Linked DNA regions of Homo sapiens. The protein of the gene in region 1 interacts with the protein of each later gene in a pairwise test. Each region holds a gene or a part of one and is shown in the gene's direction. Other genes may lie near its edges. The genes, in order: PLEKHA5, CEP250, RBFOX1, PROM1, SH3BP5L, EVPL and KRT20.

Evidence for each region.
Region 2: the proteins of PLEKHA5 (region 1) and CEP250 interact in a two-hybrid assay, tested with the Homo sapiens proteins (one large-scale study listed by BioGRID and IntAct).
Region 3: the proteins of PLEKHA5 (region 1) and RBFOX1 interact in a two-hybrid assay, tested with the Homo sapiens proteins (one large-scale study listed by IntAct).
Region 4: the proteins of PLEKHA5 (region 1) and PROM1 interact in a two-hybrid assay, tested with the Homo sapiens proteins (one large-scale study listed by BioGRID and IntAct).
Region 5: the proteins of PLEKHA5 (region 1) and SH3BP5L interact in a two-hybrid assay, tested with the Homo sapiens proteins (one large-scale study listed by BioGRID and IntAct).
Region 6: the proteins of PLEKHA5 (region 1) and EVPL interact in a two-hybrid assay, tested with the Homo sapiens proteins (one large-scale study listed by BioGRID and IntAct).
Region 7: the proteins of PLEKHA5 (region 1) and KRT20 interact in a two-hybrid assay, tested with the Homo sapiens proteins (one large-scale study listed by BioGRID and IntAct).

The regions. Positions count from the first base shown.
Region 1 is NC_000012.12:19,135,531-19,140,013, forward strand, and holds part of PLEKHA5 (pleckstrin homology domain-containing family A member 5), read left to right. Parts: intron 1-4,483.
Region 2 is NC_000020.11:35,461,831-35,466,313, forward strand, and holds part of CEP250 (centrosome-associated protein CEP250), read left to right. Parts: intron 1-434; 5' UTR 435-537; coding exon 538-723; intron 724-1,744; coding exon 1,745-1,801; intron 1,802-3,912; coding exon 3,913-3,995; intron 3,996-4,203; exon of another isoform or gene 4,204-4,208; coding exon 4,209-4,374; intron 4,375-4,483. UniProt on the Homo sapiens protein: Plays an important role in centrosome cohesion during interphase. Recruits CCDC102B to the proximal ends of centrioles. Maintains centrosome cohesion by forming intercentriolar linkages.
Region 3 is NC_000016.10:7,708,802-7,712,192, forward strand, and holds part of RBFOX1 (RNA binding protein fox-1 homolog 1), read left to right. Parts: intron 1-254; coding exon 255-330; intron 331-692; coding exon of another isoform or gene 693-840; exon of another isoform or gene 841-1,821; coding exon 1,822-1,944; 3' UTR 1,945-3,391. UniProt on the Homo sapiens protein: RNA-binding protein that regulates alternative splicing events by binding to 5'-UGCAUGU-3' elements. Regulates alternative splicing of tissue-specific exons and of differentially spliced exons during erythropoiesis.
Region 4 is NC_000004.12:15,982,591-15,987,073, reverse strand, and holds part of PROM1 (prominin-1 isoform 1 precursor), read left to right. Parts: intron 1-1,036; coding exon 1,037-1,117; intron 1,118-1,245; coding exon 1,246-1,314; intron 1,315-2,718; coding exon 2,719-2,811; intron 2,812-4,483. UniProt on the Homo sapiens protein: May play a role in cell differentiation, proliferation and apoptosis. Binds cholesterol in cholesterol-containing plasma membrane microdomains and may play a role in the organization of the apical plasma membrane in epithelial cells.
Region 5 is NC_000001.11:248,818,966-248,823,448, reverse strand, and holds part of SH3BP5L (SH3 domain-binding protein 5-like), read left to right. Parts: intron 1-2,187; exon of another isoform or gene 2,188-3,046; intron 3,047-4,483. UniProt on the Homo sapiens protein: Functions as a guanine nucleotide exchange factor (GEF) for RAB11A.
Region 6 is NC_000017.11:76,020,120-76,024,602, reverse strand, and holds part of EVPL (envoplakin), read left to right. Parts: intron 1-482; coding exon 483-582; intron 583-948; coding exon 949-1,103; intron 1,104-1,184; coding exon 1,185-1,311; intron 1,312-2,064; coding exon 2,065-2,190; intron 2,191-2,375; coding exon 2,376-2,414; intron 2,415-2,574; coding exon 2,575-2,736; intron 2,737-2,821; coding exon 2,822-2,929; intron 2,930-3,039; coding exon 3,040-3,135; intron 3,136-4,483. UniProt on the Homo sapiens protein: Component of the cornified envelope of keratinocytes. May link the cornified envelope to desmosomes and intermediate filaments.
Region 7 is NC_000017.11:40,878,351-40,882,760, reverse strand, and holds part of KRT20 (keratin, type I cytoskeletal 20 precursor), read left to right. Parts: intron 1-106; coding exon 107-189; intron 190-1,990; coding exon 1,991-2,147; intron 2,148-2,499; coding exon 2,500-2,661; intron 2,662-2,822; coding exon 2,823-2,948; intron 2,949-4,395; coding exon 4,396-4,410. UniProt on the Homo sapiens protein: Plays a significant role in maintaining keratin filament organization in intestinal epithelia. When phosphorylated, plays a role in the secretion of mucin in the small intestine.

The DNA.
Region 1 (4,483 bases):
CTATTTTATCCTCCCTCTTTAAGCTTTGGATAGACAATCACAGATAAGTATGATGTATGTAGTGCCAGGGTTGTGTGTACTTTCTTTTGCTGCTTTTTGTGCTTACGTTTCCTTGTAAAATGTTTGTATACATATCTTCATGTAAACAGATAGTACTGCTAATGTAAACAAAGGACCTGATCAGCGTAAGAGTTGTATAGGTTTGAGTTAATCAGTTTATTTTATACACTTTGAAATTGGTTCTTTAATACAAGTTTGCAGCTAGATTAAAAAAATATGTAATATAGAGAATGTATTTTCCTTCACATCCATTTGGCCAAAAAACAGTAAAATATGAAAAATCTTACTTTGTTTTTTTTTTTTTTTTTGAGGGGGGTTTCACTGTGTCACCCAGGCTGGAGTGCAGTGGCTCTATCACAACACACTGCAGCCTTGACCTCCTGGGCTTAAGCGATCCTCCCACCTCAGCCTTACGAGTAGCTGGGACCACAAGTGTGTACCACCATGCCTGGCTAATTTGATTGATTGATTGATTGAGAGAGACAGGGTCTTCCTATGTTGCCCAGCCTGATCTTGAACTCCTAGGCTCACGCAATCCTCCTGCCTTGGTCCCCGAAAATGGGGGATTATAGGCATGAGCCATGGTGCCTGGCCAAAAATCTTTATCTTTAAAGATATTTAATACTTTTTTTCTGAATAATTTTTCTATGTGCCCTAAGCTAGCCAGCCTCTTAATTATGTTACTATGTGTTTGTGTGTGTAAATACATTACACAGAGTTTGAGTTTGATTATTGAATTTTCATATTGTTTTTATAACTTAATTTATGCTGTTATCTTTATGAAGAATGCTGAAAATAAGTGAATTTTATAACTTGTAAAGTGTGGCTTTAAATATTCCGTATTCTTATGAGAACGCAAATAACTTAGCCCATAAAGCACAGAAGAAAATCTTATACGTTTGAGTTATAAAGCTTTCTGCTTGCTCCTTGAAAATATTGCTTAATGATTCTGTAATGACAGGCCATGGTAACTTAAAATGGATGTGTCATTTACTATTCCTTTGTGCTTCAAAGCTTTAAGATGGTTAACTTAGAGTGCCAAGTAAATCTTAAGGCTCTCTGAATAGTGAGAAACTTTATTCTGATTATTTAAAGGTCATTGCAGGACTGGGTATCAAAACAATATTTGCGGGGGTAAAATAGTATGCAAATTTTTTAAGGTTATGTTTTCATACTGCTTTTTTTAACTTAAAATTCTAAGTTCTGAAAATTGAACTTTTTCTTACATAGGCAAATAGAGTATGAGGTTTTGTTTCAATATCTGCAATAGCTGGATCTAATGTATGCTAATTCCAAACTTACCAAAACTAGCGTTGCAAGTAAGGAGAAAAATCTGTTTCTTCAGATTTTCACAATTCAAAATATGAATGAAGATGGGGAATCTAACAAGTGCCATAAAAAACATTAGAATATATTAACTATGTATTTGATATTTAAAGTTGTTTTATACTTTACTTTTTTTTTTTCTTTGAGACGGAGTTTCACTCTTGTTGCCCAGGCTGGCATGATCTCAGCTCACGCAACGTCCACCTCCCGGGTTCAAGCAGTTCTCCTGCCTCAGTCTCCCAAGTAGTTGAGATTACAGGTGCCCACCACCACCACGCCTGGCTAATTTTTTGTATTTTTAGTAGAGAAGGGGTTTCGCCACGTTGGCCAGGCTGGTCTCAAACTCCTGACCTCAGGTGATCCGCCCACCTCGGCGTCCCAAAGTGCTGGGATTACCACCACCCCTGGCCAAAAACTGTTTTATACTTTCTATAATAATATAACCAAATTTTGATTACTAGAGCTATATAATTCTTTAGAACACTTTGTGGGCATTATATTTCTTTTCCATATTTATAACAAGAGTTTTGGACTGTTAATATGTGATTCCTTACATTGATAAAGCACTTTATGCTAATTCATTAGTTACAAAACAACTACGAACTATGATCTCAGCTTTCAAGGAGTTTGTAGTGTAGAGATAAATATGCAGTATATTAAAACAGGGAGATGGTTTGGGGAACATAGACTTATTTAGTGCTAGGCACTTCAGCATAGCATTAAACTCCTATAATCCTCACAATAGCCTTTTTGTTGTTGTTGTCTCTTTCGTTTTCAAGTTGGTGTGCCAGGACTACCAGCCTCAGTAGACTTTGTTGTGGAATTCTTTTATTTTTAGCCCCAGGACCACTGCTTAGGGCCAGGTTTGCTCAATATCCTCCTTGTATTTCCTGTGATGCCCAGCATCTAGTCAGCCTCTAAAGAAGTGGTATCTGTGATGATGATGATGCTGGCTCCTAGTTATTTAAGGAGTTAATCAAGATGGGGAAAGAATAGTCCCCACAACTCAAGTGGTTGCATTTTAAGAACACTTTCTGGATTTGTCAAGGGACTTTTTCTTCCCTAATCTGGATAGACCCCTTCGTTTCTTCTTATTCTCAAAGCTGGCCTATATTTAGGAAGGGGGAGGAAGTGGTCAATACAAAAACACAAAAAGTATTGGAAGAGTTGAAGAGTCGATGACCTGGAGACAGGGCCTTACATAGGACCTGTCTGTCCTATACAGGATGGAATTTCTTTGAATTTGTTAGCAGATGCTCTTTTCTTGTGACTGTTTCATTTTTTTAAATAACAGATAAATATAAGATGAAATTAAGGGTGAAAAGTTATGTGTATATGTGTATGTGTAAGTTAGAGTTAATGGTGTAAAAAAATGGCACGGCATGGTGGCTCATGCCTGTAATCCTAGCACCTTGGGAGGCTGAGGCAGGCGGATCACTTGAAGTCAGGAGTTTGAGACCAACCTGGCTAACATGGTAAAACCCTGTCTCTACTAAAAATACAAAAATTAGCCGGGTGTGGTGGCGGGCTCCTGTAGTCCCAGCTACTCGGGAGGCTGAGGCAGGAGAATCGCTTGAACCCAGGAGGGAGAGGTTGCAGTGGGCCGAGATCACGCCACTGCACTCCAGCCTGGGTGACAGAGTAAGACTCTGTCTCAAAAAAAAAAAAAAAAGAAGATGCTAGTTTGAGTCATAAGAATTCAGAGGAGGAAGAGGCAGCCTAGGCTGGGCTGCCCTGGAACGACTTGAAGAGGTGGGAGTTGAGCTAGGCCTGAGGGTATAGATGGGATTCACTTTCAGATGAGTTGATAAGACTGGGAGGATACATTCATGGGGCTGGGAACACGTATAATATGTGAATATGTGTGATGAGTAATACTAACTAGGCTTGTTAGTGATGGTTCTGTAGAAAATGCTAGGATGATGGGAGGTGAGTCTAGGAATGCTGTTTGGAACCATACTGTGTCCGGTCTTTGAATGTCAGGCTGAGGTTTTTATTTTCCGGGCAAGCCTTTGCAGATGTTTTTTAGTATAGCGTTAATTATGCAACATGAAGGTTTTAGGGAGATTTCAATACAGGCAGCATGGATTGGACAGGAGCAAAGTGGGAATCAAGGAGACCATTTCTGAGTCTGTTGCCATAATTGGGTAGTTACTTGAACTAAGTTTGTGGCAGCGGGAATGGAAAGGAAAGGCCATTGATCAAAGATGTTAAAGACGAGCTGACAGGCCTTAGGAGTCTTGCTGAGCAAGGAGGTTGACAGAAAAAAAGAGGTCAAAAGCTCCTCAAAGCCTTTGTGTCTGAGTGTCTACAAGAATGATGATGAGACCCTTGACCGGAATAAAGGAGTAGGTGTGGGAGGGGGAGCCCCAGGTGGACATATTAATGGTGGTTTGGTTTTTGAGCTGCTTGAGAGGACATAGCATTTCAGGTGGCTAAAATCCGACTTTCACAAAGGACTCCTGACATTATCTTTTTACTCCCCTCAAAAAGCAAACACAACCCACTCCCCTATCCTATCTCAGCTACCTAAATGACTATCTAGCTATTTATAGATTCAGGCTGGGAATTTCATATTCATCCATCTAATTATTCATTCAACAAATGCTTATTGAATATTTACTGTGTGCCAAGTGCTTTAAGCTTTATGAATGAAACAGACATGGACACTACTCTTAAGAACTTTATAGTTGAATTAGTGGGGGAGCCAGTAATAAAATAATCATGCAAATATGTAAGATAGACTGTGATAAATGCTATGAAGAATATCTAATGTTTTGACTACGTATATTGAAAGGCCTTAGCCCGTTGTGGGGGTTGCTGGGAGAGGCATTTCTCACAGTTAAGCTCCAAACCCCTGCAGAGTGGATCAGAATAGAGCAGTGTAAAGTCACTGGAAAGATGAAGAATAAATAGCCTCCTGGTCTTGAGATTGGACCACAACCTGAGTGAAAGCATTGCTATATATAAAGAAAGACTTGGGGGATGGGGTTGGTATGGTATGGCAATTTATGAAAAGGAGAAAGCTGCTGCAGAAGCTGCTCTTTATCATCCAATAGATAACAATGTTTAGCCAACTGATTTTAATGATTATCTC
Region 2 (4,483 bases), on another chromosome or scaffold:
AGTGTTAACAATGATGATGATGATTCACACAGTTCACAGGCTCCCAGGCTGGGTTCTCTTCCTTTGTTTTCTCATATTATCTTATTATTTCACATGCTACATTGTATGTATTGTAATAGTTTGTGTCTATTTCCCCTGCTAGACTAAGAACACCTTCAGCGATTCATTCAACAAATGTTTCTGAACCACTGTGCCAGGAACTAAGGATGCAGTGATAAACCAGGAGCTCTTGGTTTAGTGCAGAGTTCCAAAAGTCATGCCAGGAGACACTAGTCCTGTGAGCTTGTCTCATGGTCAGTTAAATTTGGGGAATGATGCTCATCATAGCGCCCTTCAGAGATGAGGGTCCCTTTTAGTATTTTAAAGGTTCTGAGGAGTCTTGTGTGTAGTAAAAGAACAGTCCTTTCCATTTGACTATGTGCTTTGGTCCCCAGTTCAAGAGGAGGTTGAAGTGGCATGGCAATGGTTAGAGACCCTGCTGGGCGTGAACACCCTCTGGCTACCTAGGGACCTGTGGGCCTACCACCTGGTGCCCTCATGGAGACAAGAAGCCCTGGGTTGAACAACATGAAGCCCCAGTCACTGCAGCTGGTACTGGAAGAGCAGGTGCTGGCACTACAGCAGCAGATGGCAGAGAATCAGGCAGCCTCCTGGCGGAAGCTGAAGAACTCCCAGGAGGCCCAGCAGAGACAAGCAACCCTTGTGAGGAAGCTGCAGGCCAAGGTGAGGCAGCTGCCCTTTTGGGGAGGGGAAAGAGAACAACCCCCAGAGCTAGGTGCTGAGGTGAGATAAGGGTTGCAGGAGGCAGAGTCTTGTGGTGGGAGTGGCCTACATCTAGCATGGTGAGATAAGACCCAGACCTTCTAGCTTTCATGTACAGCTTCTCTTTTGATGCTCACAACTGCTCCATGAGGTACGTATTATATCCTTTTAATTTAATTTTATTTTTGAGATAGGGTTTTGCTCTGTTGCCCAGGCTAGAGTGCAGTGGTATGATCACAGATCGCTGCAGCCTCAACCTCCTGGGCTCAGGCAGTCCTCCTGCCTCAGCCTCTGGAGTATCTGGGACCACAGGTGTACACCACCACTTTTGGCTAATATATCTCTTTAAAGATGAAATTCACAAGGGTTAAGTTAATTATCCAGGTTTCTTCAGCTAGTCTAGAGCCAAAGCCCATGATCTTGCCTCTGTGATATAAAAGGCATATAGAAAGTATTTATTTATTTATTTATTTATTTTTGAGACAGAGTCTCGCTCATATAGAAAGTATTATTTAAATGCCCAAATAAGGCCAGGCACGGTGGCCCATGCCTGTAATCCCAGAATTTTGGGAGGCCGAGGCAGGTGTATCACCTGAGGTCAGGAGTTTGAGACCAGCCTGGCCAACATGGCAAAACCCTGTCTCTACTAAAAATACAAAAATTAGCTGAGTGTGGTGGCGCATGCCTGTAATCCCAGCTACTCGGGAGGCTGAGTTAGAAGAATCACTTCAATCTGGGAAGCGGAGGTTGCAGTGAGCCAAGATTGTGCCACTGCACTCCAGCCTGGGACACAGAGCGAGACTCCATCTCAAAAAAGAAAAAAATGCCCAAATAGAAACTATAAGATGTTATGGCCTTACCTTACTGTCACCACCCATTTCCCCTGTTCATAGCAAGTTTGCCTAAGATCCTCAGGGGCCTTTGCTTTGGGCTGTTTGTGCCAGCTGTGTTCATTGCCCAGGGCCTGTTCTTTTTGCTGCAGGTGCTGCAGTACCGAAGCTGGTGCCAAGAGCTGGAGAAGCGGCTAGAAGCCACTGGAGTGAGTGAGGCTGAGCTCTCTGCACCCCCTGGGTCCTCAGTGAATATACTTGTTAGGTTTCATTTGTTGACTGAGGGAGGTTGGAGTGTACAAGTGAGGTGTTTGGTGGAAGGCTCTCTTTCTCAGCCTCTGAGAGGTTTATCACACTGATATCTTCATTGGACCTAGCTGGCCTGTCAGATTCCAACCCTTGGTTTTCAAAGGACGAAATGTAAATTAGATTGGAAGGAGTGTGGGATTAGCAGGAAGAAGTGCATGTTTCCTCCAGCAGGTGTCAGTGTTTCTTTTAGAAAGATGCAGGCCTTTGCGAGCCTACAGCATGTCTGCAGCAAAGGGATGTCTGTGCTATTAGAACTGGCTTTGAAAAACCCATTTATTTGCCTTTGTTCCAGCTGCCTCTCAGTACCTCCTCACATTTTCCTCAGAAAAGTTCTCTCAGAGGAAGGAAAGAACCAAAACTTATTGAGCACCCTCAATGCAGTCCAGGCAGCATGAGGCACTGTCATATACAGATGGTCCTCCCCAACTTAGGATGGTTGCAAGTTTTCAACTTTATGATGATGTGAAAGCTATATGCATTCAGTATGTTCCTTGGGTTATGATGGGGTTACAGCTGGATAAACCCATTGTTTGGGGTTGTTTTGCTTGCTTGTTTGGTTGGTTTTTGTTTGTTTGGTTGGTTGGTTGTTTTGAGACAGGGTCCTACTTACTCTGTCGCCCAGGCTGGAGTGGACTGGTGCAGTCATGAGTCACTGCAGCCTCAGCCTCCTGGGCTTAAGCGATCATCCCACCTCAGCCTCCCAAAAAGTAGCTGGGACTACAGATACATGCCTCAACATCTGGCTAATTTTCTTTATTTTCTGTAGACACAGGGTCTCTCTATGTTGCCCAGGCTGGTCTCAAATTCTTAGACTCAAGCAATCCTCCCACTGCTGGGATTACAAGTGTGAGCCACTGCATCTGGCCCGAACTCACTGTTAAGTTGAAAATATCATAAGTTGAAAATGTCAGCCAGGCGCAGTGGCTCATGCCTGTAATCCCAGCACTTTGGGAGGTCATGGTGGGTGGGTCACAAGGTCAGGGGTTCAAGACCAACCTGGCCAGCATGGTGAAACCCCATCTCTACTAAAAATACAAAAAATTAGCCGGGCATGATGGTGCGTGCCTGTAATCCCAGCTACTCGGGAGGCTGAGGCAGGAGAATCACTTGAACCCAGGAGGCAGAGGTTGCAGTGAGCCGAGATCATGCCACTGCACTCCAGCCTGGGCAACAGAACTAGACTGTCTCAAAAAGAAAAGAAAAAAAGAAAACGTCGTAAGTTGAAAACACACCTTTAACTTATGTTCAACTTATGATGGATTTATGGGATGAAATTCCAGCATAAGTCAAGGAGCATCTATAATTGTGTCTCTTAACCTGCACAGCAACTTTCTGAAGGGAACGATATACCGCTTTCATTTTGTAGCTGGAGACACTGTAGCTCCAAGAAGTTAAGTGACTTCACAGGCTGGGTGTGGTGGCTCATGCCTGTAACCCCAGCACTTTGGGAGGCTGAGGTGGGTGGATCACTTGAGGCCAGGAATTCAAGAACAGCCTGGCCAACATGGCGAAACCCCATCTCTACTAAAACTACAAAAATTATCCAGGTGTGGTGGCAGGTGCCTATAATCCCAACTACTTGGGAGGCTAAGGCAGGAGAATCACTTGAACCTGGGAGGCGGTGGTTGCAGTGAGCTGAGATTGTGCCATTGCACTCCAGCCTGGGCGACAGAGCGAGACTCTGTCTCCAAAAAAAAAAAAAAAAAAAATGAAAGAAGTTAAGTCACTTCCCAAGGTCAAACCGTTAGTGTAGTGGAAGTTAAGGCCATTAGTGAAAGATACATCACTTCTTAAGTTGAAGATTCTATTTACTACTGAAGGCCGTCTTTCAGGAGAGGTCATCAGTTTACTTTTGGAGTGAGGGATGCAGTGATTGAGAATAGAAGCATATTGCTAACAAAGGGGAGAAAGAATAAAAAGAAAGTGGACTGCCATGGAAGGGAGCCTTAGGGAACTGGTCTGAGTGATGTTCTCTTTGGAGGTAAGTAAGGCTTGTCTCTGTCTGGCGCAGGGACCAATCCCCCAGAGGTGGGAAAATGTGGAGGAGCCAAACCTGGATGAGCTGCTGGTCCGATTGGAGGAGGAGCAACAGAGGTGATGGACCCCAAACTTTCTGACCTGGGTGATTGGCCAGTTGGTGGAGAAGGCTGATGGGAAACTTCTGCCCTGAGGGCTAATGTGGACTTCAGCCATAGCCCTCTAATTCCTGCAATGGAAAATTTCAGTGGTTGCCATCTTACTCCCAGGAGGTCCAAGGGTTGGACTAGACCTTTATTTTGCACCCACTTTTACCCCTCCCCAGTGCAGGTGTGAGAGTCTAGCAGAGGTGAACACCCAGCTTCGACTGCACATGGAAAAAGCTGACGTGGTGAATAAAGCCCTTAGGGAAGATGTGGAAAAACTGACAGTGGACTGGAGCCGGGCCCGGGATGAGCTAATGAGGAAGGAGAGCCAGTGGCAGATGGAGCAGGAGGTAGGAAGAACGGGGACTGGAACTGTGAGAGGAAGCCTGTGTATTCTGGATGCTGCCCTGGTCAGTACTGGAAGGAGTTAACTTCAGGACTTGGATGAAAACTGAGCTG
Region 3 (3,391 bases), on another chromosome or scaffold:
GGAAAAGCATATGTAAGTACGTGTGTATATATGTATTTATCTGTCAAACATAGCAATAGCAACCATGTTAAATGCACAAAAAATGTATCATGTACAGATGAACTCTTCTTATACTACACAGCAGAGTAGAATTTGCTTCTCACTGGAAGATGAGTAGGGCCCCTGCATACTGTCTTGGTATTTTGGATTTTATGATTGTTATTGTTTTGTAATTGCATACTGTGGATCAATCTTCACCTCTATTTTCCTTTCAGTTACGGACGAGTTTATGCTGCCGACCCCTACCACCACGCACTTGCTCCAGCCCCCACCTACGGCGTTGGTGCCATGGTGAGTACAAGTTTCTCCTTGTCCTCACTTCCTCCTGCCTCCCTTCCCTTTCCCCAGCTGGGACCTCAGTACGGGTTGACGTCCTCTCACTTCCCGTTAATTGAATTTGTCTCTTGTGCTAACAGCAGCTAAAATGCCACATTAATCCTCCCAGTAAACTTGATAAATGTCTTAATTTCTTGGCAATGTAGTGCATGTAAGTTATTATATTTCTAATTTTGCAAGTCTCACCTAGCAGAGCACTTACCTTAATGGAATAATTAGTCATTTTGATAATTAAATCCATCACTAACAGAATGCAGTGTCAATGCAGAACTTTTTTTTTTCTTTTTTTTTCCCTCCCTTGCTGCTCATTCACATAGCCCCAAGGTTCCAGCCCCAGCACAGACTTCAGAGGAGCTAAGCTGCACACTTCCAGGCCTCTGCTGTCAGGCAGCTGAGAATCTGACTGCCTCTCCTCCCCTATTACAATTCATGTTTAAAGTCATAGTCGCCCAGGAAAGAAAATAGAGAGGGGCACACTTTGTGTGTGTACCTAGTACATAAGAAAGTAGAAGGAATCAGCTGGGTTTGGGGGTTGCCTTTTGTTTTGGGGCAGGTCTGGGTTTTTGTTTTGGGAGGGGGTGGGGGGAGGGTAAAAAATGGGAGGTAAGGGTGGGGTGAACTTGCCTGTACTTGTTCAAACTTCTATGCACTGAAACTCTTGAGTACAGTAAGACGTGCCCATCACGTGAGAGCATATGCAATCATTACAAAGCTTTGGCATGCAGTTTTCTGCTTGGATCAAGAATATCAGTCCTTACCCTAAAAATGAATCCCCATAGGCATTCATTTGAATTGCCAATACTTTTAGAAAAAGGAAATCGTTAAGTGCCACCTTGTAGCCATTAAAACCATGGCCGGACAGTTCACTGAAGCTCAGTCATAGAAATTCAGCCATGATTTGGAAGCATTGTTTTGCACAAGCTTAATTACATCAAGCAATTCATCTGTACAACTCCACAACTCCCTTCTCAAGATCAGATTCCATACAGCTTACAGAGCCAAGTTAAGTAAGAAGTAGGTTGAGATTTTCATCCCAATTCTGCATTCAACAACTCTGCTTCAACACCTAGTCCACATGAGGAATGTGTTGGAGAGTTGAATTACATTCAACAACTGGTCCAAATTCAACCTCAAGTGCAGATTATTCTGTTATAAAAAAATGAGACAGTGAAAATCCTTCCATTGTCCAGCTTATAATAGAGTCCTTTTAGCTAAGAGGACTGGCTGACAGAATTTGGTTTTGCAGGGAATTTCTTTAGGAGGAGCTATTGGGGAAGGTCAGGAATGGCCCTATCTTTAGTTCTCCAAGAATGACCTGGGATGGGTAGGGGGTGCCTCCATTTCGGTTGGTTTTGAGTGTCTATTTTTCACATTAGTCTTTTTGATGATCCACATGTTGCAAAAGGAAAATGTAAAAAACACACCCCTCAAATTGCTTTGTTTCAGAATGCTTTTGCACCTTTGACTGATGCCAAGACTAGGAGCCATGCTGATGATGTGGGTCTCGTTCTTTCTTCATTGCAGGCTAGTATATACCGAGGGGGATACAACCGTTTTGCTCCATACTAAATGACAAAACCATAAAAACCTTCCAATGTGGGGAGAAAGGAAGCTTTCCGAGGCCTGAGTATTGCAATACATGCAGTAGTACATCATTTTAGCAACTCTAAAAAAAAAAAAAATACAAATAAAAAGGAAAAAAAATTACATTTTTTATCTTATACCTCAGATATTTTGTTCTGTGTATTTTAATATTGTGGGTCTTTAATTTCTGAAGGTTCCGTAGTTTGGTTGCTGGCTGTAGGAGTTTTTGTGGTTGATCTAGACAGATGCTAGATAATGAATAAAAACTGGTTTAGGGCCATATCCAGAGTGCTATATTATGTAAATGAATTATATATGCTGAATATTAAGCTACTGGGGTTATCAGCTATTTGGGAAGAGTGTAAGTGACTACAGTAGTCATTTTTTTCTGCACCTGCATTATTTTATTTTGCGAAAGGGGAGGTTGGGAGGGGCTTAGGGGATTGGAACTGGGGTTTGGCTGAAAGAAAAAAAAAAAAATGTAACTGATGAATCTAAACGACCCACTGCACCAACAATCATTTATCAATGGTTCTAAGTTACTCATTGCCAGTTCAAGCCAAAGGTCATGTTGTTAAGGGGGTGCTTCTAGTAGCACTTGTGCATCTGAGTTGAATGAAGCTGTGCAAACCCACCCTTTAAACCATTCCACCCGGCAGTATTCAGCTTCTTAACCAGTCGCTATTTAGGAAAAAAAACCCACTAGTTAGGCCATCAACAAGCATTCTTTTTATATTTCTTCCAGTATAATAAATTATTGATATCACTGCTGACTTTTATATTATGGGAGGGAAAAAATAACATTAATAAAAAGGTGATAAAAAAGCACTGTTTCTATTTTTTTCTTTTTTTCCAAAAAAAGAAAGTAATAAAAACTTAAATTCTTTGTACCAGTTAAAAAAAATGTATAAAATTTACATCTGTGCAGTGGAGTTGTTAAGTTCTAGAAACAGTCTATGAAGCTTTAGTTTTAGCCTAGTAGAACAACTGTTAGAGACAGACGTATAATTTTTATGGAATTACATGATAATCATATTCGGATTTATAGAAGCATTTTACAAGTATTGCAATCATTGAGTAGAGATAATCATGGTATTTTCATCAGCTTGGTACTTTTTGAAACGTGACTGCGTTGTGTGAACAATCTGCAATTTTTCAGTCCGTGAGATCCTGCCCTTCCACCTCTTTCCCATACCCCCAAGGATTATCTCAAAATGATCTCTTTAGTTCTGTCTCCAAGGCCCAGGACACTTGTCAGAAGGATGCAAAAAAAGAAAAAAGTACATCCACCCTCTTAATCCCAAAAGAACAAAGTCTCCCCACCTTTCTCGGATGCAGGGCCAGAGTGACACAGCCGAAAAATTGCAGTTTGTCTGTACTTCTGTTTGAACTTTCCACGTTGTCCTGTTTACAAGTTAACTTAAGTTGGGGT
Region 4 (4,483 bases), on another chromosome or scaffold:
CTGGGAAGCCATCCAAGGAGCATATCAATAATCCTGAACAGCTAATGCAATCTACCTACCACAGGGGCCATGTGTGGGCTGCAAGCATTCCCTCAGCAGACACAGAGCTGCAAGGCTGGGTTGTATTCATCTTGTATCTACAGTACCAATGGGCAACTCAGAAGATATTTTTTCATTGAACGGAATAGTCTGTACATGACAGGTTTTGGGTATCAGCCCCACAGGATAAAACTAAATGTTCCTCCTTCCACTTTTCTCAGTGAGACCAACATCATGGCTCAGCTCCTTTGAAGATGTTTAGATTTACTCTGCTCCAGGACCCTCGCTATGCCTCTGATCACAGTTGCCATTTCATAGGTGTGTGTCTCATGCCAGGGGAACCTGGAAACACACCAGTGACTACGTGCAGGTGCTTTGCTACCTCTGTGAACAGGGCGAGGGTGTGCAGTGGTGCAAGGCCTTTCATGAGGGGCCCAGCCAAGGGGGTTAGTCGAGGGCAGAAACTGGCCATTGACTGAGTTGCCAGGCTCTGTGCCCTGAGGTCCCTGGGCAGAAAAGGCCCCATTTCCAATTTGCACCAAGCTGCCATGTGGGTTGGCAGAGGACTCGTCTTTGCTTGTGTTGTAGTGCAAAGACTATGGGTTTTGTAGTGAAAAAAAAAAAAGTTCGGTGCAAATCCCAGCATTGTCGTATGTTTCCCCAGCATGGTGACCGTGAAGAGGCTGAGCTGCCTCATTTGTGAAGGGAACCTAACAAACAGTACCTTCCTTCCTGCCTCGTTGTGAGTTTCCAGCAAGTCCAGCAAGGCCATTCCTATCAAGGACTAGCCCAGTGTCTGGGCTAGAGTAAATGCTCACTTTCAGCTCATCTCCTTCCCTGCCCTCAGGGGCCTGGGTGGGTTCTGTCTTCCTCTTAACTAGCAGGTCCAGGTCGTGGTGTTGCAGAGCTGAGTTACAGTACTTGAATCAATATGCAAATTGTCTAATTAAAACTTTCTATGACTTGATACCCTGATAACTGTGGCTGTGTCTTTCAGGAGAGAGTAACTAGGATTCTAGCTTCTCTGGATTTTGCTCAGAACTTCATCACAAACAATACTTCCTCTGTTATTATTGAGGTGAGCCTTCTTTTTTAAAGTAAGCGTGTCCATAAGTGGGCACTTGAATGTTACAGATTAAATATTTATAATGTTTAAGTATGCTGTCATCATTTTAATGCTTCTACTCATCTTTTGTTTCTTTCCAGGAAACTAAGAAGTATGGGAGAACAATAATAGGATATTTTGAACATTATCTGCAGTGGATCGAGTTCTCTGTAAGTAGTTTATCTTTTATGAATGTTAAGGGGGGTCAAGTTTCAGGATAGCCATTTTCTAGGGTAAAATCTGGAAGAAATAAAATTAAATTTCCCATAATTTGGTAGGAAGTAAGTGAAAGGACATTGATGTGCAGGACCAAGACTTCTGGGGCTTCCCACCAGGTCAGAGGACAGCCACCTCCTGGTCCCCTTTGCTCACCTTTGCCATATGCAGTTCTTCCATTTGCTTCCCACCCCCTTTTTCAGGTAACAAAGGGGCCAGGTAACAAATTTGAACTAAAACACTATGCTGGGCACGAGAACTTTTTAATTCTCTCAGAGTCCTGTAGGCTGGGTCTCACTGTTCCAAAACAAATGAGGAAACTGGAAACCGAGGCTCAGAGAGAATAAGGATCTTGCTTTAAAATATATACAATTGTCCCTCAGTATCCATGGGTTATTCGTTCCAGAGTCCCCTGCAGATACCAAAATCCTTGGGTGCTCAAGTCCCTTATATAAAAGATATAGTTATTTGCACATAACCTATGCACATCCTCCTGTGTGCTTTAAATCTCTCTAGATTACTTATAATACCTAATACAATGTACATGCTATGTAAATAGTTGGTATACTGTATTAAAAAAAGTCTGTACATGTTCAGTAAAGGTACAACTATCCATTGTTTTCTGAATATGTTTTAATCTATGATTGGTTGAATCCATGGATGCAGAATTCAGGGATATGGAGGGCCGACTGTAACTGTATATGCAGAACTCATCCATGCACATCAGCCGTCAGTTCCATGTCTTAGAGCAGCAGTCCCCAGCCTTTTTGGCACCAGGGACTGGTTTAGTGGAAGACAGTTTTTCCACAGGCCGGGGGTGGAGGTAGTTTCAGGATGATTCAAGGGCATTACATTTATAGTGCACTTTATTTCTATTATTAATACATTGTAATATATAATGAAATAATTATGCAATTCACCACAGTGTAGAATCAGTGGGAGTAATGGGAGACAGTGACAGATCATCAGGCATTAGATTCTCATAAGGAGCACAATTGAGATTCCTCGCATGTGCAGTTCCACAATAGGGTTCATGCTCCTATGAGAATCTAATGCTGCTGCTGCTCTGACAGGAGGTGGAGCTCAGGCAGTAACATAAGAGATGAGGAGCAGCTGTAAATACAGGTGAAGCTTTGCTTGCTCACCCGCCCCTCACTTCCTGCTGTGGAGCCCAGTTCCTAACAGGCTGTGGACCGGTACTAGCTGGTATCCATCTGTGACCCAGGAGTTGGGGACCCCTGTCTTAGAGGACATGGAGATCCTTTTTGTGACACCAAGTCAAAAGTAAATGGCACGTCTCATTCCTTTGGGTTTTTGTGGATGCAGCTCAAAGTTTCCCTGTGTTTCCACCCCCCTAGATCAGTGAGAAAGTGGCATCGTGCAAACCTGTGGCCACCGCTCTAGATACTGCTGTTGATGTCTTTCTGTGTAGCTACATTATCGACCCCTTGGTAAGATTTCATCTTTCAAAAGAAGACACAATGAATCCATCATCTTTGGTTGTTTTTCTGGATTATGATATACATTATAATATTTGTTTTCTGCTTGAGAGAATCCAAAACCTAAAATGTAATATTTTGATCAGTGTATTGAGATGCTAATAGACTAGAAAAGTCAAAGTTCTGGGCGGTTGTCTTCTTTCCTCACTAGGATTATATTTATGAGTCAGGAGACCTGCAGGGAGAAAACTCCTGTTAGTTCAGAATAATCAGAAAGACAGTCACGGGTGTGCAGATTTCTCATCTTCAAAAGAATACTCAGTACAACTACATTTACAACCCCAAAGTTGCATCAAATTTCATTTGTCATTAAAAAGCCCTTAGAAATGTGACTATTGGGATGGTAAGTTCCAGTTAGTCAGGCTTAATCCTCAGCTCTGTTCCCTCCTCAACAGATGCTGACTCTCTCTGTGAGTGGATCCTCTCCCTCTGCTGAAAGCACCTCAGTGGCTTCCCATTGCTATCTAAAGATCAGGATTCCTCATAGCCCATACTAGGCTCTGCATGGCTGAGCCTCCCCATTCCAGATCTCACTGTGTGCTCTCTGCCTGCCCGCCTTTCTTTCTGTGCTCCAGACATACTCATCTTCTTTCACTTCATCAAATAAATCTCAATTTCCCCACCTTAGGGCCCATGCACATGCCGTTTCTTCTGCCTGGACTGGAGATGGGCACACGCCGCCTTTCTCTTTCTCTCTCCTCTTCCGCTTCCCACCTACCCACTCCCCACTTTAAGACCTAACTCCTCCAGGTCTGGTAACACAATGGTGGAGAACATCAACTCTGAATGAAAATTCCACTTCTACATTTTCAGAACTCTGTGACTTTGAAAAATTCCTGAAATTTTCTGAGTTCCTCGCCTACATGGGCTGTTTTGATGATTCAGTGAGAGGTCACATGTGAAGCCCTTCACGCTGTTGGAACATCAGCACTCAATGAATATTCACTACTATTGTTGTTCCGCCTTCAGGTCTTAGCTCAAACATGTCTTTTTTCCAGGAAGCCTTTTCTGATCCCCAAAACTAGGCTGAGCTCCGTTTTCCTCATTCCTGTAGAACTCTATGCTTTTCCTTTAGAGATGTTATTGCTGTTTCAATTACATATTTATATGTTTCTTTGATTAAGACCTGTCTCTCCAGCACACTCTAGACTCTCCACTCCATGAGTCACCAGTGCATTCAAGGCTGTGTCCCTGTTGTCTGGCATAATACCTGGCACAGAGTATCACTGATGCATTGTCAGGTAGCTCTCTGGCACAGTTCATCCCTATTGCCCTGTCTGTCCACCTCCCTCGTTCACTTGTCCATCTGTCTGCTGGAGGGTCTTTCATGCCTGAGTGAAAAGGATTCTGCCTCCGACCCAACCACGCAGACCCTAGGCCCTGCTTCCTGGATGCTTCCTTCTTCTTGCAACTACTTTTCTTGTCCTGTGCTTGGTGGCCCCTGCCGCCAGCTTTGGCTGAAGCCTTCATTAGGGGAGTCCAGAGCCAACCTGCTTGATTCTGAATTGACGTCTCTCTATGTCCAGCCTCCACCACCCACCCCATTCAGTCGAACCACATAGCCACCAGATGCCTTTCCACAGATCACCAGGGACAGAGGGGAGGCCTAGAGGCTGCTCAGGAA
Region 5 (4,483 bases), on another chromosome or scaffold:
CTCCAACCCCATGATTTATGATTTTTATGGAAGTTTCTTTACGTTTCTGAGCCTCAGTTTCTTCATCTGTAAAGTGAGCAGTTGGTCTAGCTGATTTGCACAACTCATTCTTGCTCTGCTCTGACACAAGTCTACAGTTCTTTCTCAAACTCTTTTTGCTTGTTCCTTGGTGATAGTTTGTAGATAGCACTTTGGGAAAGAGCTGTCTCTCTGTTGCTTGTGGAGGAGGGCTGTGTAATGTGCATTATATGCCTCCCTACAGCCTTCCTTGCCCTGCTCCAGAGAAGGCTTCTGCAGAGGAGAATCCACTGTGGTCTCTTTACTTGGCCTCTACTACTCCTATGTATTTTTCCAGTGTCTGCATAGGCACATGGTAGTAGTAGGAAGAGTCATGCTTGCATTGTGCTGTCTAATAGGGTGGACTAGCTGCATGTGGCTATTTAAACACAATCAATTAAAATTAACATGTAAAAATGCAGTTCCTCGGCCAGGCATGGTGGCTCACACCTGTAATCCCAGCATGTTGGGAGGCCGAGGCAGGTGGATCACCTGAGGTCAGGAGTTTGAGACCAGCCTGGCCAACATGGTGAAAACCCGTCTCTACTAAAAATAAAAAAAGCTAGCCAGGTGTTGTGGCGGGTGCCTGTAATCCCAGCTACTTGGGGGGTTGAGGCAGGAGAATTGCTTGAACCCAGGAGGCGGAGGTTGCAGTGAGCTGAGATCTGCCACTGCACTCTAGCCTGGGTGACAAGAGCGAAACTCCGTCTCAGAAAAAAAAAAAAAAGCAGTTCCTCAATGTTATACTGACAGTGCATAAATAGAATATTCTGTCATCACTGACTCTTCTATCAGATGAGCTCTATGAGAGTTGGAGTACACTGAGGTAGCGTAAGACTTACTTTGCCTCCAGTGAACTTGTGATGTCGCTGGTGCAGGAAAGGTAAAGCAGACCCTCGTCTCTCTTGCTAAACTGCACAACACGTTGTGGAATGTTGTGGGTTGTATAGGGAGGAAAGGTCTAGTAATAGCTTCCCTCATTTGATGACACAGGTGTGGGTACGCCAGTGCTCTGACCTCAGCAGGGAGTCAGTGTCTTCTTGCTGTGTGAGAGAGGCAGCCTGGCTTGAGGGGCACCCTTCACGGAGGAGGCCGGTGGCATTTTGCCCTTCTGTGCTTGGGCTTTCAAGATGAGGAGGAGATTGGGGTGTTTGTCTTTCGAGGTCCCTTTGAGTGTTGACAGTTCACTAGACCATGCACATTGCTCTGATCATGTGTTTCAGTGCTTTAGGTGGGTGTTCATTTCTCTGGATTCTCAGTGCATTTACTGGGTTTCCATCCACCGTCCATAAAAAGCCACCAGGGAGCTTCAAAAATACCCTTACCTGAGCCTTTCCAGACATGTGGATTCTCTTAGTCTGGGTGGGGTGAGAAGGGATTCTGATGTTACAGTCAGAGCCAAATCCACTGGGCCAGGTATATCCCAAAGGTAGAGCGCCTGTTTCGGTATTTTCTGAGGCTCCCGGAAATGGCTGTCCTTCGGATGAGGCCCTGTCTGACCTGGGGCTGGGGCTCCTTTGCAGGCAGGCAGCTCCATGGCCATTTATGGTGGGATTCCTCTGGAAGTTAGAAGGAAGTCAGCTGGTGCCTACCTGGAGCGTGCTGTCCCTCCAGGGAAGGCTGCTGGCTGTGTCTCCTTGTCATGATCTTAGTGGAGTTCTTTTGAGTCCTCCAGGCTCATCCTCAGCTTTCCGAGAGGGTTCCAGTGGAGGGAAGAGGAAAGGAGCGTGGATCTAGGATGGACCTGGGTCTGTTCTGTGACTTTCTCAGCCCCCTCTTAGTGGTTGCATTCTTTCCTCAGATGTGAGTGCTCTCGTTTACCTGCTCCTTTCCAAACTCTCTAGGGTGACTTTGCAACCTCTGTGACCTCATCTAGAAGTATGGGTTTAGCTTTCACAGGACAGTCATCACCCTGGCCCCAGTTACCATTAGTTTGAGTCTTTTGATGGTCTGCACTAGGTGGGGTGGGAGCATCTGCAGCCTGAGTCCCCATGCCTTTGATTCAGTGTCCTGGCATCCTGGGAATCTGACTGCTGTGCCCTGGGAAGGTCACCCTCCCTGCTGGCTGCTGGCTCACTGATGGATGATGCACGTTGATTCAGACTTTGTCCTCCCCAAATTCCGTTTCAGCTGAGTGCCAGGAGTCCCTGGTGAAGCAGGCCAAATGGAATGTGTTGCTGACTGCCCAAAACTGTCCCAGGTCCTCAGTGGATTCCTGCTCAGCCTTTCCCTGGGTGTCGCCTAGGTGGGCTATCCCCCTCCCTCCTGTGGTGACCTTGCCCTCCAGGCTGCTTTGCTCCCCAGGCATCTTCTTGTCCTGTTAGGGAGAGCTTTGTGACTCTGAGGGGACAGATCCCATCAGCAGATGGCTTTCTGTAAATTGCTGGAGGTGCCACTGGGAAGCTAGTTCCCATATAGAAAGATAATGCCCACTCCTGCCACTTGCCAATAGCAACAGCTCTTCTTGTCCTTTTAACAGTAGTAACAACTTATGCTGAGCCATCCAATCCATTGATGATCTTGTCAGGAGCTGGAAGTTGATGACTGGAAGCATTTGAGGCCATGGAATCCAGTGGGGATCCCGTCTTGGACTTTGATTTGCCACATGAACATTGCAGGGTGGCCTTTACCAACTGACCCCCCACAATCAATGTTTGTTGCATTTCCAATCCCTGTCCTTTTCCTACGTGGGCTGTGGTTTTCCTAGATTACAGCACTTCTTTCTTTACTGAGATGTCCTTCCAGTGGTGTCCTCATTCCCAGGAGGGTGGTCACAGTGGAAGGAAAGTGAGATCAAAGGTCGGTCCTGGATCCAGACCCAAGTCTGTCACTAATTTTCCGCCTGGTTGTTTCTCATCTATCAAATGCAAAGTTGCTGAGAAAGAATATTCCAGCAGGAGGTGCTGAAAGAACTGGTCACTCGTCTCCCAGATAGCCTAAAAGCCCCTGTAGGCCTCGTCAAGCCCCAGGAAGCTGGGCCCCCAGGGAGGTAGGTTGCCTTTCAGCTTGACAGACATTGCCTTTTTAGGGCCTGTTGGGGTGATCGTGTCAGTTGCTGGTGATGTCTCTGTTCGGAAGGCACTGTGAAACTTGGAGTTCCATGTGTCTGGTAGTGTTGATGCTGACCCTATGCCTCCTCTGGGGCCCTGAGCTGTGTTGGCTGCCTGTTCTTCCAGAATGGTTGTTATTTTATGGACACTGGGTTGTGGGACACTGTAGATGCATCTACCCAAATACAACAACTTCTAGACCTTCGCCACCCAACACAGGAGCCACATGCCACTGTCTAGGTTGAGATGTGTCACAAGAGTCAAGTGCATACGGATTGTGAAGACTTAGTTTAAAAAAGTAAAAGTATGGATAATAATATTATTTTATGTTGATCACATGTTGAAATATATTTTGTATATATTGGGTTAAATGTATTTTTATAATTTCACTCTTTTTTTAAATTTTTTTACTTTTAAAAAATGTGGCTTCTAGAATTAAAAATTCCATGTGCAGCTCCTGTTACGTTTCTGTTGAATAAGTCTCTTCGAGAAAATTTAGAGCAAGCTTTTCCAACCCGTGGCCTGTGGGCCGCATGCAGCCCAGGATGGCTTTGAACACGGCCCAATGCAAATTTGTAAACTTTTCTTAAAACATTATGAGATTTTTTTTTGTGATTTTTTTTTTTTTTTTTTTTTTTTGAGACTGAGTCTTGCTCCTTCACCCAGGCTGGAGTGCAGTGGCACAATCTCAGACCACTGCAACTTCCGCCTCCCAGATTCAGGTGATTCTCCTGCCTCAGCCGTCCCAGTAGCTGGGACTACAGGTGTGTGCCACCATACCCAGCTATTTTTTTGTATTTTAGTAGAGATGGGCTTTGCATCATGTTGCCCAGGCTGTTCTCAAACTCCTGAGCTCAGGCAATCTTCCCACCTCGGCCTCCTGAAGTGCTAGGATTACAGGTGTGAGCCACTGCGCCTGCCCACGATTTTTTTTTTTTTTTTTAAGCTCATCAGCTGTAGTTAGTGTTAGTGTATTTTATGTGTGGCCCAGGACAGTTCTTCTTCCAGTGTGTCCCAGGGAAGCAAAAAGATTGGACATCCCTAGTTTAGAGCCAGATTTGTGGCCCTCCTTAGGCAGGGTCTACACTGTTGTAGGTAGGTGTGTGCATTTTCATATCCTCATTCCTCGTTCCATTACAGGTTTCTACCTTTGTGTTCTTCCTGTTACTGTAATTAACATGTCAAACCATTTCCTGTATTCTTACCTGCTGACCCAGATCTTTTCAGGATCAAGGCAGGGGATGGGGGGAGGATAGAAGAGGTAGAAGGGACTAAAAGGAAGATTGTGCATGTCAGCCTGACTCCCTCACTGGGTTGCTGAAAGGCCCGAATGAGGTGAGTGGGGGCCAACATCACGGCCATATGAGTGGGAAGTG
Region 6 (4,483 bases), on another chromosome or scaffold:
AGGAGGTATAGGGGAACACAGGGCTGGAGTGCGAGGAGGTGGGGATGGGGGACATGCTGCTGCCTCCCTGCCCCAGCCAGCCCAACTACCCCTCCCAGGGCCCAGCCAGGCTGGCTCAGGTGCTAGTGGCTGAGCCGGTGATTCACTGGCTCGGGGAGGGAAGTGGCAGGTAGCTAGGTGGGGTCGGGAACTCACTGCCAGCACAGCTGGCTAAGGCTGGGACACCGAGGCCGCCTGCCCCCTCCCCAGCACCACACAAACCTGAGACCCTCACCTTTTGACCCCTCATGTGGCGGGGCAGTGCTAACACCCCCAACCAGGACTAGCTCACAGAGCCTTCTGCAGAGAGAGACCCCAAAGTCAGGGCAGTGAGCTAGGCTGTGGGGGCAGGATGGGGTGGAGGGAGGGCAGGGGATGCCACCTGGATGGGGCACAGAGGGGCCTCTTCCACCGAGCTACCCGCTGTCCCCTCCACACACTAGGGCTGCCACCCAGGAGCTGGCCCTTCTCATCTCCCGCATGCAAGCCAACGCCGACCAGGTGGAGCGGGACATCCTGGAGACGCAGAAGAGGCTGCAGCAGGTGAGGCCCCGGCAGCAGTTGGCAGGGCGTGGACAGGCTGGGTGGCATGGGAGGCCCATCATCAGGCCTGGCACTCCCTGAGTGCCCCTTGGTGATGGTGAAGATGGGACAGATGACCTTTGTCCTGCACCGCCCATCCCCTAACACACGGTGGGAGAGAGGGCTCAGCTTCCTTCTTTTCTGGGCTCCCCTGTGTCCTTGTCACCTGCCCCACGGACGCCCTGGTCCTGACCCTGTGCCTGGCGTGGGCCTCAAGGTTGGCTAGCATAGCTGGGGTCCCAAAGTTGGGGCTCAGGCCCACAGTGATGGGCAGCAGGGGTGTGGGGGCTCTGGGCCCTGGCCAGTCTGCCCATCTCCTGCCCACAGGACCGGCTGAACAGTGAGCAGAGCCAGGCCCTGCAGCACCAGCAGGAGACGGGCCGCAGCCTGAAGGAGGCTGAGGTGCTGCTCAAGGACCTCTTCCTGGACGTGGACAAGGCCCGGCGGCTCAAGCACCCGCAGGCTGAGGAGATTGAGAAGGAGTGAGTGGAGCTGCGGCAGGGCTGGGGGTCCCTGGGGAAGACCCAGGTCCAGCCCTGACCTGCCGGCCACCTTCTTGACAGCATCAAGCAGCTGCACGAGCGGGTGACCCAGGAGTGTGCGGAGTACCGTGCCCTGTACGAGAAGATGGTGCTGCCCCCCGACGTGGGACCCAGGGTCGACTGGGCACGCGTGCTGGAGCAGAAACAGGTCAGGAACTCAAAGTCACACCCCAGTGTGATCAGAGGGCGATACGGAACTGCATTTAATCCAGGGCCTGACTGCAGGCTTGAATAGTCAGGGTGTAGGGGTGGCTCAGGGGTCTGGGCAGAGAGACAGCAGAGTAGACAGTGCAGTCAGGGAAGACTTCCTGCAGGAGGAGGTACATGAAGAGACCTCAGAGGGGTGAGAGGGCTCAGTTGGGCCAGGGTGAAGTAGTGAGGAGAGGACAATTCCAGAAAGAAGGAGCAAAGGTTCCTGCCAGGAGGAAGCCTGGGCTTCGACGGGAAGTGGGGATTTCTGGGCAGGTGGGCAGAGCCAGGTCATGGGACATTCTGATCCCTGGTTGAGGAGTTGTGCTTTGATGCCACACAGAAGGGGTGTCATCATGACAATAGAGGGACAGTGGGGAAGGGCCCGGCTGGAGCAGGGCATTCTGAGGGCCCTAGAGCTTGGCTGGTGGTGTCCAGGCAGGAAGCACTGAGGCTGGGTCACAGACAAGGCAGGATGGAGCTGGAGACTTCTTAGAGGCTGAGCCCAGCGTCTGGGAACCAGTGGGACTCAGGGGCCACTGCAGAATGGCCTCGCCCCTGGGGGAGCTGCAGGGCATGCACCCGGGCTGCTCCCAGGCTCGTCCACGCTCTGCCCAAATGACCAAGTCCACTTCTCCGGGTGGGAGGCGTGTGGGGTTCTCTGGCTCCCCACCGCGGTCCTTTGGGGACTGAGCCGCCGGCTCTCCTGCAGAAGCAGGTCTGCGCAGGCCAGTACGGGCCGGGCATGGCGGAGCTGGAGCAACAGATCGCCGAGCACAACATCCTGCAGAAGGAGATCGACGCCTATGGGCAGCAGCTGCGGAGCCTCGTGGGGCCGGTAGGTGAGCCTGGAGGATGTCACATCCGGGGCCAGCCCCAGCCCGTTTCTCCAGTCAGAGCCGGAGCTAGATCGGCTGGGCCCTGGGGATAGGGGTGGGTGGGGTATGGCTGGCCCAGATCTTAGGGGGCCGTCTCCCTGCACCCCACCTCTCACGGGCTTGTTTCTCCCCTTGGTCGAGGCAGGATGCAGCCACCATCCGGAGCCAATACCGAGACCTACTGGTGAGCAGGAGGGAGGGTCGGGCAGGGAGGCTGCGGGTGGGCCTGGGTGGCCGCCCGGACCCTGCCCGGGGCCAGTGTTCCTGAGCGCGGCCCAATGGCGCCTTTTGCCCCCCACTTTCTGTCTCCCCACCCTGCTGCTGGCGGCGGGTCCTGAGCACAGAAGGCGGCGTCGTGGCGCGGGCAGAGCCTGGGCAGCCTGTACACGCACCTCCAGGGCTGCACGCGGCAGCTGAGCGCCCTGGCTGAGCAGCAGCGCCGCATCCTGCAGCAGGACTGGAGCGACCTCATGGCCGACCCTGCGGGCGTGCGGCGGGAGTACGAGGTCGGCTGGCAGAGGTCGGGGCCAGGTGGGGGCGGCCAGGGCCATCCGGGTCCTCACCGCCGCTCCCCACCCGACTCGCCCCCAGCACTTCAAGCAGCACGAGCTGCTGAGCCAGGAGCAGAGCGTGAACCAGCTGGAGGACGACGGCGAGCGCATGGTGGAGCTGCGGCACCCCGCGGTGGGGCCCATCCAGGTGCGCTGGGGCAGGGCGAGAGTGAGAAGGGACGTGGTGGGCGGGGAAGGGGGGAGGTGGGGCGGACGTGGGGGGGGCGTGGTCCGAGGGCTCCATGCTGCCGTACCCAGGCCCACCAGGAGGCCCTGAAGATGGAGTGGCAGAACTTCCTGAACCTGTGTATCTGCCAGGAGACCCAGCTGCAGCACGTGGAGGACTACCGCCGGGTGAGCCCTCGGGCAGGCGGCAGGGGCGGCAGGGGCGGCAGGGGCGGCAGGGGCGGGAGCACAGCACCCCTGCCCACAGGAGAGGCACTGCACCTCCCAACTAGACAGAGCTGGCAGGGCGCGGTGGCTCACACCTGTAATCCCAGCACTTTGGGAGGCCGAGGCTGGTGGATCACTTGAGGTCAGGAGTTCGAGATCAGCCTGGCCAACATGGTGAAACCCTGTCTCTACTAAAAATACCAAAATTAGCCAGATGTGGTGGCACGCGCCTGTAATCCGAGCTACTCAGGAGGCTGAGGCAGGAGAATCGCTTGAACCCAGGAGGCGGAGGTTGCAGTGGGCCGAGATTGGTCCACTGCACTCCAGCCTGGGTGACAGAGAGAGACTCCACCTCAAAAATAAAATAAAATAGAGCTGTGTGGTTGCCACTCGGTCCCAGAGGGAAAGAAAGGCATGGGCACATTCTCAACAGGGTGAAGCGGTTCCCAGGGGGGTGAAAATTGGTTCTTACTGGCAGAAAAATATCTTAACTCTTTTTATGCATGAAGTCCAGATCCACATACAGCACCTAAGCTGTATACAGCATATCTGTGGTATTAAAATTTCGTGGGGGCCAGGTGTGGTGGCTCACATCTGTAATTCCAGCACTTTGGGAAGCCGAGCCAGGAGAATTGCTTGACACCAGTAGTTCCAGACCAGCCTGGGCAACATAGCAAGACCCTGTCTCTATACAAATAGATACATCTCTATCAAAATAAATAAATAAATAAAATTTTATGGGGATGAGGTGGGGGGAAATTAAATAAAATATTTCTTAAAAGGCTCTTTAGGAGAATAATAATGAAAAAAAAAACGGTTGAGAAACCCTGATATAATATGCAACTGGGATTTGGGGGCAGATAATGTTTCATACATTTTCCTATAGAACCACAAGACTGTGATCACACACGTTGACAAAAATTCCGTCAAAGCACCTGGAATGCTTCTTTAAAGCACAGCTTCTTCTCCGGGGCTGGGACAAGTGCAGCTCCAATACCCTCTGTCCCAGCAAGAAAGACTTCAGGTGCTGGAGGGAGGCAGGTGACGGTGCCCTTCATTTGTGCAGGAAGGACGAAGACCAAGTGTTTTATGACCCACTTAAAAAAATTAAGTTCAGTGCACAAATAAGACCCCATTTGCAAGAGCACACCAGTGATAAAAGGTCCTGCCGCCTGGGTAGGAAAAAGAAAGACCGACCAGAGTAGGGGAGAGTGACAGTTTAGGTTTAGCTGGTTTAAGTTTAGCTGGTTTAGGTTTATCTGGTTTAAGTTTATCTGGTTTGTGTTTAGCTGGTTTAGGTTTATCTGGT
Region 7 (4,410 bases), on another chromosome or scaffold:
TCCAGTCTGGGCAACAGAGCAAGATTCTGTCTCAATAAATAAATAAATAAATAAATAAATAAATAAATAAAAAAGAAAATGTCATTCTTTCTCATGTATTTTCCAGATTAAGGATGCTCAACTGCAAAATGCTCGGTGTGTCCTGCAAATTGATAATGCTAAACTGGCTGCTGAGGACTTCAGACTGAAGTAGGTTCCCTAATACGTGGCAAAAGTTTCTGAAAAAGAATTCCTTTAGTAGTCCTTCCAGATACTCAGCTTTCCATATCATTGTTGATAAAGGAAGCACGGTTCAATGTCCAGAATCCTGAAGCCTAAAGGAGGTTAGAAGCTACATGTATGAAGCTAACCCAGCACTCAGGGATGGCCTTCTCTTTCTTGATCCCCCGGCATGTAACTAAACACCTCCAGTAACTACTATTCTCCTTGGTTATTACTGGTTGCTAAATTTTTTTTTAGTAACCTGGTATCTAAACCTAATTCTGCCCTTTGGAGTAATAACAAAGTAATTTACAATTCTCCTTCTCCCTAAGTGCCTTTCTGTTATCTAAAGAGAGTCTTGTGTCTACCCTTGGTGATTCTCCAAGTAATTCTCCACGTTCATTCAAGTGCCTGCAAGTGTATGACCCAAGTTCCAGGGGTGACTCTTGATGATTTCTGGCTTGCCAGTGTTTTACAGGATGGTCTGGCCAACCAAAGAACCAGGACCAATCTATAATAATTAGCTGGGCGTGATGCCGTATGTCTGTAATCCCAGCTACTCCGGAGGCTGAGGCAGGAGAATCGCTTGAACCTGGGAGGCGGAGGTTTCAGTGAGCTGAGATCGTGCCATTGCACTGCAACCTGGGCAACAGACTGAGACCTTGTCTCAAAAAAAAAAAGGAAGAAAGAAAGAAAAGAAAAAGAAAGTAAAAATTGTGTTCACTTTCTTTGTAGTCATCACACCACATGTGACCAGACCTGTTCCTTGCAAACAGCTTCCACACTAAGGCCTCTTCATCCTGAATTTGTACAATGCATTAACACCAAAAAGCCCTTTGTGGTTAGAAGGGTAGCCTTTTAATGCTCCAAGGGATTAACAAGAAGGAAATAGGAAATCAAATCCAAAGATGAAAGCAGTAAAGGTGCATTACTTCCAATTTTACCTAGCACTGAGTGTCACATTGCAGTGTCATTTTTTAAAGTTGGATATTTTAGGAAACTGGGCAGGGCATGCATGATGGCTAACGCCTGTAATCCCAGCACTTTGAGAGGCTGAGGCAGGAGGCTCACTTGAGTCCTGGAGTTTGAGAACAGCTTGGGCAACGTGGCAAAACCACATCTCTATACAAAAATACAAAAAAAATTAGCTGGGCATGGTGGCATACATCTGCTGTCCCAGCTACTTGGGAGGCTGAGGTGAGAGGATTGCTTGAGCCCCAAAGGTTGAGGCTGCAGTGAGCCATGATCACACCATTGTACTCCAGCCTGAGTGACAGAGTGGGACCCTGTCTCAAATACACACACACACACACACACACACACACACACACAGTGTGTATGTAAGATTGTAGAGGAGGATGTAGAGCTGTTTGAGATAATTCACTTTGGATGTCTCTGTTCACAAAGTAATAAAAATAAATCGATCATGTACATTCATTAAGTAAAACTAACCATTATTTAATATCAATAATAAGAACCCTTTGCCAACACAATAATTAACACAATTTAATTTCTTATAAGATAAATTCTAGAATTTAGAAGTGTTCAAAATTATTTCAGATTGCCTTTTTACCAGTCACCCCAAATTATAGAGATTATATTATTGAGCACATTTTCTGACTCCTAGGTTCTTATGTAAATTTCATGATTGTGTAAAGGCAGACATTATAAAGTATTGAAATTGATCTCCTCATAAGCCACATTTAAAAACCTATCCCATTATATTAGATTCTCTCCTTATAATGGCTTCAGAAGGACCAGTTATCTCTGTACACTAATTAATTCACAGGTATGAGACTGAGAGAGGAATACGTCTAACAGTGGAAGCTGATCTCCAAGGCCTGAATAAGGTCTTTGATGACCTAACCCTACATAAAACAGATTTGGAGATTCAAATTGAAGAACTGAATAAAGACCTAGCTCTCCTCAAAAAGGAGCATCAGGAGGTGAGAAAATATTCAGAAGTGGTATTGGAAACAATGGAATGGTTCTATATAATACTAATAATAGGAGGAGCGGGAGAAACAGGAGAAGGGGGAAGAGTTGGTGGTGATAGTGACAGAGATGATGACGATGACAATAATGATACAAGCCCTACCTTCTTTTCATAATGTTGTTGTAAGTTAAATGACTTAGAGCAGCACCTGGACCACAATAAGCCCAACACAAGTTATTATTTTATATCTTTTTTACTTATTCCCAATGAAAGAGGTCATGAGACTCCTTATGTCTTTTCTGCCCAGCCTTATCTGAGAATGTGCTTCAGACTAAAATCAATCAGAAATTTCACTTTCATAGGAAGTCGATGGCCTACACAAGCATCTGGGCAACACTGTCAATGTGGAGGTTGATGCTGCTCCAGGCCTGAACCTTGGCGTCATCATGAATGAAATGAGGCAGAAGTATGAAGTCATGGCCCAGAAGAACCTTCAAGAGGCCAAAGAACAGTTTGAGAGACAGGTAACCACACAATTCTAAAGGGTGAGCAAACGTGTAGATGCTTTCCTCCAGAAACAGATAACTCATTTTCTTTTTCATTTGTTCATTCTTCCTTTCTCTTTCTGTCTTTTCTTTCTTATTTCCACCCCTCAACTATTTTTTTTTCACTCTTGGCACTGTAGACTGCAGTTCTGCAGCAACAGGTCACAGTGAATACTGAAGAATTAAAAGGAACTGAGGTTCAACTAACGGAGCTGAGACGCACCTCCCAGAGCCTTGAGATAGAACTCCAGTCCCATCTCAGCATGGTAAAGCATATCTAACTTCTCTTTCTCAATCTAGTATGTGTTTACCAAGGTCCTCTGTTAGGAACTATAGAAATGCAAAGACCTACAAGAAATAACCCTTCCCCTTGCAGAACTGGCAGGGAAACAGGCCGAACAACTGATTATAATTAAAGGACAGAGAGAAATCGAGGAAAGGGCAATGTACTGCATGAATGCAGAGGAAAGAGTAAATCTGGAAGATTTCACAGGGAAAGTGGCATTTAAACCAGATCTTCTTGTAACTTTTAAGTTCAGGAGTACATGTGCAGATTTATGATGTAGTTAAACTTGTGTCATGGGGATTTGTTGTACAGGTTATTTCATCACTCAGGTATTAAACCTAATACCCATTGGTTATTTTTCCTGATCCTCTCCCTCCTCCTACCCTCCACCCTCTGTTAGGCCCCCATGTCTGCTATTCCCCTGTATGTGTCCATTATACCAGATCTCAAAATCTAAGATAAAATTTTAAGATGGAGAATGGACTAGAGACATTCCAGGCCAAGCAAATCAGCAAGCCCATGACAAATTATGTTGTGGTAAGCAGAATCCCTCAAACCACAGTGGCCTGCAGCCATGATACTACATCCACCGTGACATTTCCTTTCCAAGGGCAAGGCTAAAGGGGTAGGCCCTACCTAGGACATGCCAGTGTCCTGGCAGAAAGAAAAGAGCAATGGTTGGTCCACTTGATAGCTCTTAAAGCTTCTCCTTAGAAAAGGCATTTGTCCTTTGGGAGGCCAAGGCAGGAGGATCATTTGAGGTCAGGAGGTTGAGACCAGCTGGCCAATATGGTGAAACCCCATCTCTACTAAAGATACAAAAATAAGCTGGGCATGGTGGTGTGTGCCTGTAATCCCAGCTACTTGGGAGGTTGAGGCAGGAGAATCGCTTGAACCCAGGAGGCAGAGGTTGCAGTGAGCTGCGATCACATTACTGCACTCCAGCCTGGGCGACAGAGCAAGACTCCGTCCCAAAAAAAAAAAGAAAAAGAAAAGGCATTTGTCAGTTTGACCTGCATTTTATTAACCAAAGAGAGTCACATGACCCAGCCAGGTGTCAATGGATTAAAGGAATCTAATCCTGCAATTGAGAAATGCCACAGATCACATGGCCAGGTCTGATGAAGGAGTGAGAGGTATAACATCTTCACACAGTGGGGAAGCAAGTACTGAGAACAATGCTACAATGCGCCGCACTGAAAGAACAGTAGGTGCAAAGCTACAAGCAAAGAAAAACCCCAAGAGCTAATGATCCTAGCTGGCTGGCTGAGGTTGCCTAGTTGGGAAGAGTGGGAGATGGAGCTAGAAATATACACCATGCCCACAGTGATGAACTGCAGAGACCCTTCTCAAAGGAAATTAAAATTAACCCATCTCTTGAATCAAGTCCTCACATAAGAAGTGCCCTATTTTTCTTGTGCTCATAGAAAGAGTCTTTGGAG